2 linked regions of the Homo sapiens genome follow. The protein of the gene in region 1 purifies or fractionates together with the protein of each later gene. This does not show direct contact. Each region holds a gene or a part of one and is shown on either strand. Other genes may lie near its edges.

What was found.
Region 2: the proteins of SLAIN2 (region 1) and JARID2 purify together in Homo sapiens (affinity purification with mass spectrometry; one large-scale study listed by BioGRID and IntAct). This does not show direct contact.

The regions. Positions count from the first base shown.
Region 1 is NC_000004.12:48,383,029-48,386,528, reverse strand, and holds part of SLAIN2 (SLAIN motif-containing protein 2), read right to left. Parts: intron 2,883-3,500; coding exon 2,745-2,882; intron 1-2,744.
Region 2 is NC_000006.12:15,494,069-15,497,568, forward strand, and holds part of JARID2 (protein Jumonji), read left to right. Parts: exon of another isoform or gene 1-1,844; intron 1,845-2,063; coding exon 2,064-3,102; intron 3,103-3,500.

The sequences.
Region 1 (3,500 bases):
TTAAACGTTAGAATTTTAAATCTTAGGAAAAATGGAAATTATATTTCTGGATAAGTTTTATATCATGGTCTAAACCATAGATGTGACAACTCTCACTAGGTGAATTTGGACTCTCACCTATTGAGATCCAGTGCTCAAGATGAATCAACATGGGTTTAAATTCTAACTTGCCGCTTATAAGCTGTATAATCAGAGATAGGTTATTTGGCCATTCAAAGCTTCAATTTCTAATCTGTAAAATGTGGTAATAATCGTACCTCCTTCATAGAATTGTTCTAAGGATTAAATAAGATTATGCATCTAAATACAGTATAATATAAATTTGTTATATAAGTAATATCATATGCACCTTGTAAATAAGGAAAATTTGTCAATATATCACAGAAGTCATTTTGATTCAAATATAGTTTTTTCGTAGCTTTTTTTTTTTTTTTTTTTCTTTCAATAGACTGGAGTGCAGCAGCATGATCATGGCTCACAGCAGCTTCAAACTCCTGGGCTCAAGCAATCCTCCCACCTCAGCCTCTTAAGTAGCTGGGACTATAGGCATGTGACCATCATGCCTGGGTAATTAAAAAAAAAAAAACATTTTTTTAGAGACGAGGTCTTGTGTTGCTCAGGCTGGTCTCAAACTCCTGCTAGCCTGTTGATTTTTGAGCCACTAAGTAACAACAGCTTAACATGAAGTATATGAAGTCAGCTAAACACAACAGGGCCAAGGAAAAGTGTGAAGAAATTAAATTAGCTGGGCATGGTGGTGCACGCCTGTGGTCCCAGCTACGCAGGAGGATCACTTGAGCCCAGGAAGGTGAGGCCGCAGTGAGCCATGATTGTGCCACTGCACTCCAGCCTGGTGACAGAGTGAAACCCTGACTCAATCAAAAAAAAAAGAAAAAAAAAGATGAAAATGAAAAAAGGGTTAAATATCTTCAAATTTTTAACTGCTTAATAAACAAGTTATAAGTGAACAGTCAACAAACTCGTTTGTATCACTTCTTCATAGCCTTGAGAAAATGAAAGAATATAACACAGCTACCACTTCAACCACTGATAGTAATATGCCACAAGGATCTGAGACAATATGCATCCATTGTGTACCTACAAGGATCTGAGTGAATAAGCATCCCTTGTGTCCCTACAAGGACCCCAGTGAATATGCACCCTTTGTGTCTCAGAGCTCATATACGGGACTGATGTGAGCTGTGAAACACATGGGATGAATACTGAGCGTTCATAAGATCATAAAAATAACTGTAATCATTTATTTAAAACCGTTTTGACTACACGCTCAAATCTATCCTAGCTAAAAAGTAATTTTTTGAAATTCCTTTAAAATCAACTTGTACATTAATATACACAATGCCCATTTACTCCAACATCACTACTTCTTGGCTCAGTTTGGCTATTTTGTCCTAGATGATCTTACTGTATGATTCTCTCTGATCTTCGTCTATGCTGCATATGTTTCCTTAATTCAACAGTCTCAACCTTTCCTTTCCATCACATTACCTTCAAATCTTTCTTTAAAAATGAAGTTCTATATCTCCTGGAGTATTTAATAAAGATTTAACATGAATTTAACTGTGCTAGTATCATTATTGTTTTTATTAATGCTTTCTAAGAAAGTTGCTTGGGTTTTCAGTGGTCTGTTCCAGGACTATTCCCTCCACTCCTCATCATCCTATCATTTTTATTGTGTAATACTGCAGAATGTGAGGTTTTTAAGGAGTGCATATTTTGTGCTATAGTAGAAATGCCTGTATTGATTTAACATACTACTTGCCACAAAATAAAAACTCAAGTATCTATTACAAATAATAGTTGAATACAAATACTGTCACATTCATGGGTTAGTAACCACCCAATGACCAAAACTTATTAAAAATTATAATCTACATGTGTTCTTTCTACTATACTTCTAAAATTCACCTTCTCTGTTTAAGAGTTTAGCTTTAACTCTAAGAATTTGTTTTCTGAAAGATAATTTAAAGAGACAAGTCCTGATCAATTCTTAAAAAGTGATGGTTTCTGGCAATTTATCTCAAATTTTAATCTATAAGTAGGATTAGGACTATGAATTAATTTGGCATACATATTGATTCAATATTGTATTTTTTCATTAAAATAGCCTTAACAAACACAGAAAATCAAATCAAAACCAGAAATCTTATCTCAACAGATGCAGAAATAAAATGAGATCATCCAAGAGTTCTCCTGGTATACTTTTGTTTTGGAAAGAAAAGAACTTCAACAATTCAACTTTGATAACAGATTTAATATATTGCAGGTTTGAACAATGGATTATTTTGAGTATGATTCTAAAATTATGTAATAATCAAACTTTTAGGTATTTTTAAAGTGGAGGTTATTAAAGAAAATTTACGTACTAAGGGACATATATTTTTGGATGCTCTACTGGTTTTTATTTCTAATTCTAGTATCTATAAGCAAAAGCTACACCTACTTTTTTAATAGTTACATTTTGCTTATTTTAAAATTCTGGAGAGACCAGAGTTTTGTATAGACAGATGTACTGGCAGAATCAAGTATCCTACATAGAAAATTTTAAATTGTAATATAACTTTGATTATCATCCAGCAACTAATAAACACTAAATTTTACTATAGCTATGGTTTAAAACGGTTTTTCAGCATAAAAAACGGTTTTTCAGCATAAAACAAATATCTAAAATTTTCACTTCTCTTTAAATAACTGATACATGAAAGCATAAGAAGGATACTTACTGGCTGAAGCCTGAGGTTGCATACGAGGTATTCCTCCGTTTGGCACTTGAAAATTTGAGTCACTTCTGCTGCTTTTCACTGAGTCAACTTGTGTATTAGATGTTCGGGACAGGTTTGGAAGACTGCGTCTTAGTTTTTCTGCAACAGAATTTTAATTTTAAAAAAATCATATTCTTTCAGATGGAGAAAATTAAAATATTAACTAGCATTCAAAAATCAAATTGTTTATCAAACATTCTGTTTATTTTAGATGAGAAAATACAAAGGACTTGTCTTATTAAAAAAAACAAACAACTCGATCTAGGATCTGTTAAGTGGGTAGAATAAGAGAACACTTAAAGATAACCACAAATTTTATATTTAAAGCAAAATCTAAATACAGGTAACTTCATAAAACAATAAAGCAAAAACAACATAACCAAGTAAAATGAAATTCACTTTCTCTTTTATTTTTGTAATGATTCACTATTAATAAAATAGTAAACCTGACTACACTCTTGATTTACTTATCTGAAATACAAAAACTTAGCAAAAATTGTATTACTTTCATAGTGAAATATAAAGGACACTTTTTCTCTTTTTTTAATCTAGAAACTTTTTTTTTTTTTTTTTTTTTGAAAACAGGATCCTGCTCTGTTGCCCAGACTGGAGTGTAATGGTGTGATCACAGCTCACTGTAGCTTTGAACTCCTGGGCTCAACCAATCCTCCAGCCTCAGCCTCTCAAGTCACTAGGACTATAGATGTGCACCACCAT
Region 2 (3,500 bases), on another chromosome or scaffold:
GGAATGAGGCCTCCATGGGCCTGGCTCCTAAGAGATGATGTCCTACCAAGAATTTGTGGCTTTGATTGGACTGCACTTAATTGGTGGCATATAGAGAAATACAGGTCTCAGTGGCTTCTTTCCTTTTTGATTTTTATAAACTTCACTGATACTTCATTCAGTGGTTCCAAGCGCGGTCCCCAGGTCAGCACACAGCATCACCTGGGACTTGGTTAGAAATGCACATTCTCAGTCCCATCCCAGACCCTCTGACTTGGACACTCTGCCGGTAGGGCCCAGTGATGTGTTTACATCAGCCCTCTAGGGGATGCTGAGAGCCACTGGTTTGGATGTTTTTGGCAAGTCTTTTTTTTTTTTTTTTTTTTGAGACAAGAGTCTCGCCCAGGCTGGAGTGCAGTGGCATGATCTCGGTTCACTGCAAACTCCACCTCCTGGGTTCACGCCGTTCTTCTGCCTCAGCCTCCCAAGTAGCTGGGACTACAGGCGCACACCGCCACACCCAGCTAATTTTTTGTATTTTTAGTAGAGACGGGGTTTCACCGTGTTAGCCAGTATGGTGTCAATCTCCTGACCTTGTGATCCACCCGCCTCGGCCTCCCAAAGTGCTGGGATTACAGGCGCCTTTGGGAAGTTTCATTCCATGCCCCACCCCCACTTAAGGGGGGTCCTGGGCCAGGCCTAGGTTTAGTACAAAGGTCACTAAGACTCATTACCCGCCATCTGGGGACCTTCGTCCCCATGTGACAGCAGCCTGCACAGCCTTGTGGTGGCACTGGTGTTTCAGTACCCTCTGGGCCATCACTGCATGTGGCCAGCTCTCCTGACCAGGAAGTGCAGGCTCCCCCGACCCTGGCACCTTCCTCTCGGGCTGTTGGGGAGAAGAGGGGGCTAGTATTCTGTGTTTCTCAGTAATTTTGTGATTTTTAGGCTTCTTCCTTTGGAGATGGTGGTGGTTATAAAACCCTGAAGTCCCTGACTTTAACCTCATATCATAGACGAAAAGTAATGCCCAAGGTGTTAAGTGATGGGGCAGTGGCCACATTGTGACGCAGAGAAGACATCTTCTCGAAACCAGCATGTCTGGCAGCAGCCCATTGGGGTCCCTTCATTATTCTTGTTTGAAGCTTGTGCATTTCTAGTGTCTGCCATTGTCGCTCCCCATTTTCGCTGACGTTTGTGTGTCCCAAGATTACCACGGCGTCCAAGCTGTAAGACTGTCTCTGTTTGCCCAGGTCCCATAGAACCTGATGGGAAAGTTTGTCCAGGGTGGAAGATACATGGGACAGTTTGTAAACGGTGGGAAAATATAGGAAGCGCGTGTGCAGACGAGGGTTGGCATGTGTTGCTTCAACAGTGAGGTCGGGGCATCCCTCTTCCATCCAGCCTGGCCCTGTCCAGGGCTCGTCTCCACAAGGAAAGCAGACAGCAGCTGCTGACAGTTTGCAGCCACACCTCTGGGCCTGGCCTGCCACCCGGAGCCAAACCACATGAGCACTGCTGTTCTTTTGCTTCCATAGTATTTTTGTTTTCCTTCTTTTTTTAGCCATAGATTTCTAAATCCTGTGGGCAGGTCATGCTGCTATGTGGAGCACAGAAATAGCAGACATGACTTTTCTTGGAACAGGGATATGTGTGTGTGTCTGTCTCCACTTCCCCCAAGGAAGCAGGATCTTGCTGTCATCAACTCTGAGAAGCTCAGGACAGGTGATTGCATGGCACGTGGGGAGGTCTTCATTGTGAAACACCAAATTTCCTGGAAGAGCAATGGGAACGTGAAAATGCACCCAGGAAACCCCGCTAGGAAGCGCCTGGGGCAGTTTGCATACTTCTGTGACGAAGGATAGGTATATAGTGGATTCTGAAAGTGGACATCGCTGCTTAATTCTTGGATGTGTATTTTGCTTCTCTTTGCTGGTATTTCCACATCTCTTCTTATCACACTACAGGCTGCTGGCTCTGTTCATCCCCAGCATCCAGGGTCCTTTCTCACGGGTGGGCCGGTCATTTTAGTGGCAGGTACTAATTCTGCGTTTTTTTCCACCTCTGCTTCTGCTGCTCCACAGGTTTCTAAGGTAAACGGAGTCACTCGAATGTCATCTCTGGGTGCAGGTGTAACCAGTGCCAAAAAGATGCGCGAGGTCAGACCTTCACCATCCAAAACTGTGAAGTACACTGCCACGGTGACGAAGGGGGCTGTCACATACACCAAAGCCAAGAGAGAACTGGTCAAGGACACCAAACCCAATCACCACAAGCCCAGTTCCGCTGTCAACCACACAATCTCAGGGAAAACTGAAAGTAGCAATGCAAAAACCCGCAAACAGGTGCTATCCCTCGGGGGGGCGTCCAAGTCCACTGGGCCCGCCGTCAATGGCCTCAAGGTCAGTGGCAGGTTGAACCCAAAGTCATGCACTAAGGAGGTGGGGGGGCGGCAGCTGCGGGAGGGCCTGCAGCTGCGGGAGGGGCTGCGGAACTCCAAGAGGAGACTGGAAGAGGCACACCAGGCGGAGAAGCCGCAGTCGCCCCCCAAGAAGATGAAAGGGGCGGCTGGCCCCGCCGAAGGCCCTGGCAAGAAGGCCCCGGCCGAGAGAGGTCTGCTGAACGGACACGTGAAGAAGGAAGTGCCGGAGCGCAGTCTGGAGAGGAATCGGCCGAAGCGGGCCACGGCCGGGAAGAGCACGCCAGGCAGACAAGCACATGGCAAGGCGGACAGCGCCTCCTGTGAAAATCGTTCTACCTCGCAACCGGAGTCCGTGCACAAGCCGCAGGACTCGGGCAAGGCCGAGAAGGGCGGCGGCAAGGCCGGGTGGGCGGCCATGGACGAGATCCCCGTCCTCAGGCCCTCCGCCAAGGAGTTCCACGATCCGCTCATCTACATCGAGTCGGTCCGCGCTCAGGTGGAGAAGTTCGGGATGTGCAGGGTGATCCCCCCTCCGGACTGGCGGCCCGAGTGCAAGCTCAACGATGAGATGCGGTTTGTCACGCAGATTCAGCACATCCACAAGCTGGGCCGGCGCTGGGGCCCCAACGTGCAGCGGCTGGCCTGCATCAAGAAGCACCTCAAATCTCAGGGCATCACCATGGACGAGCTCCCGCTCATAGGTAGGTCTGGGCGGGGGGTCAGGGGGTGGTGCCTGCCCTCCTGCCCCCAGATCCCTGCAGTTCCCTCACAGTCTTCACGTTCTCTTCCCTTGCGAAAGCTCCAGTTCCGCTTCCCTGTCTCGGGAGTAGTGGGCTTCTCAGCTCATTCCCCCTGCAGCCCTTCTTCCCAGGTCCTGGGCGTTGGTGGCAGGATAAGAATGGTATTGAGCTGCCGGGCGCGGTGGCTCACGCTTGTAATCCCAGCACTTTGGGAGGCTGAGGCGGGCAGATCATGAGGTCAGGAGATCGAGATCACGGTGAAACCCCGTCTCTACTAAAAATACAAAAAAATTAGCCGGGCGTGGTGGCGGGGGCCTGTAGTCCCAGCTACTTGGAGAGGCTGAGGCAGGAGAATGGCG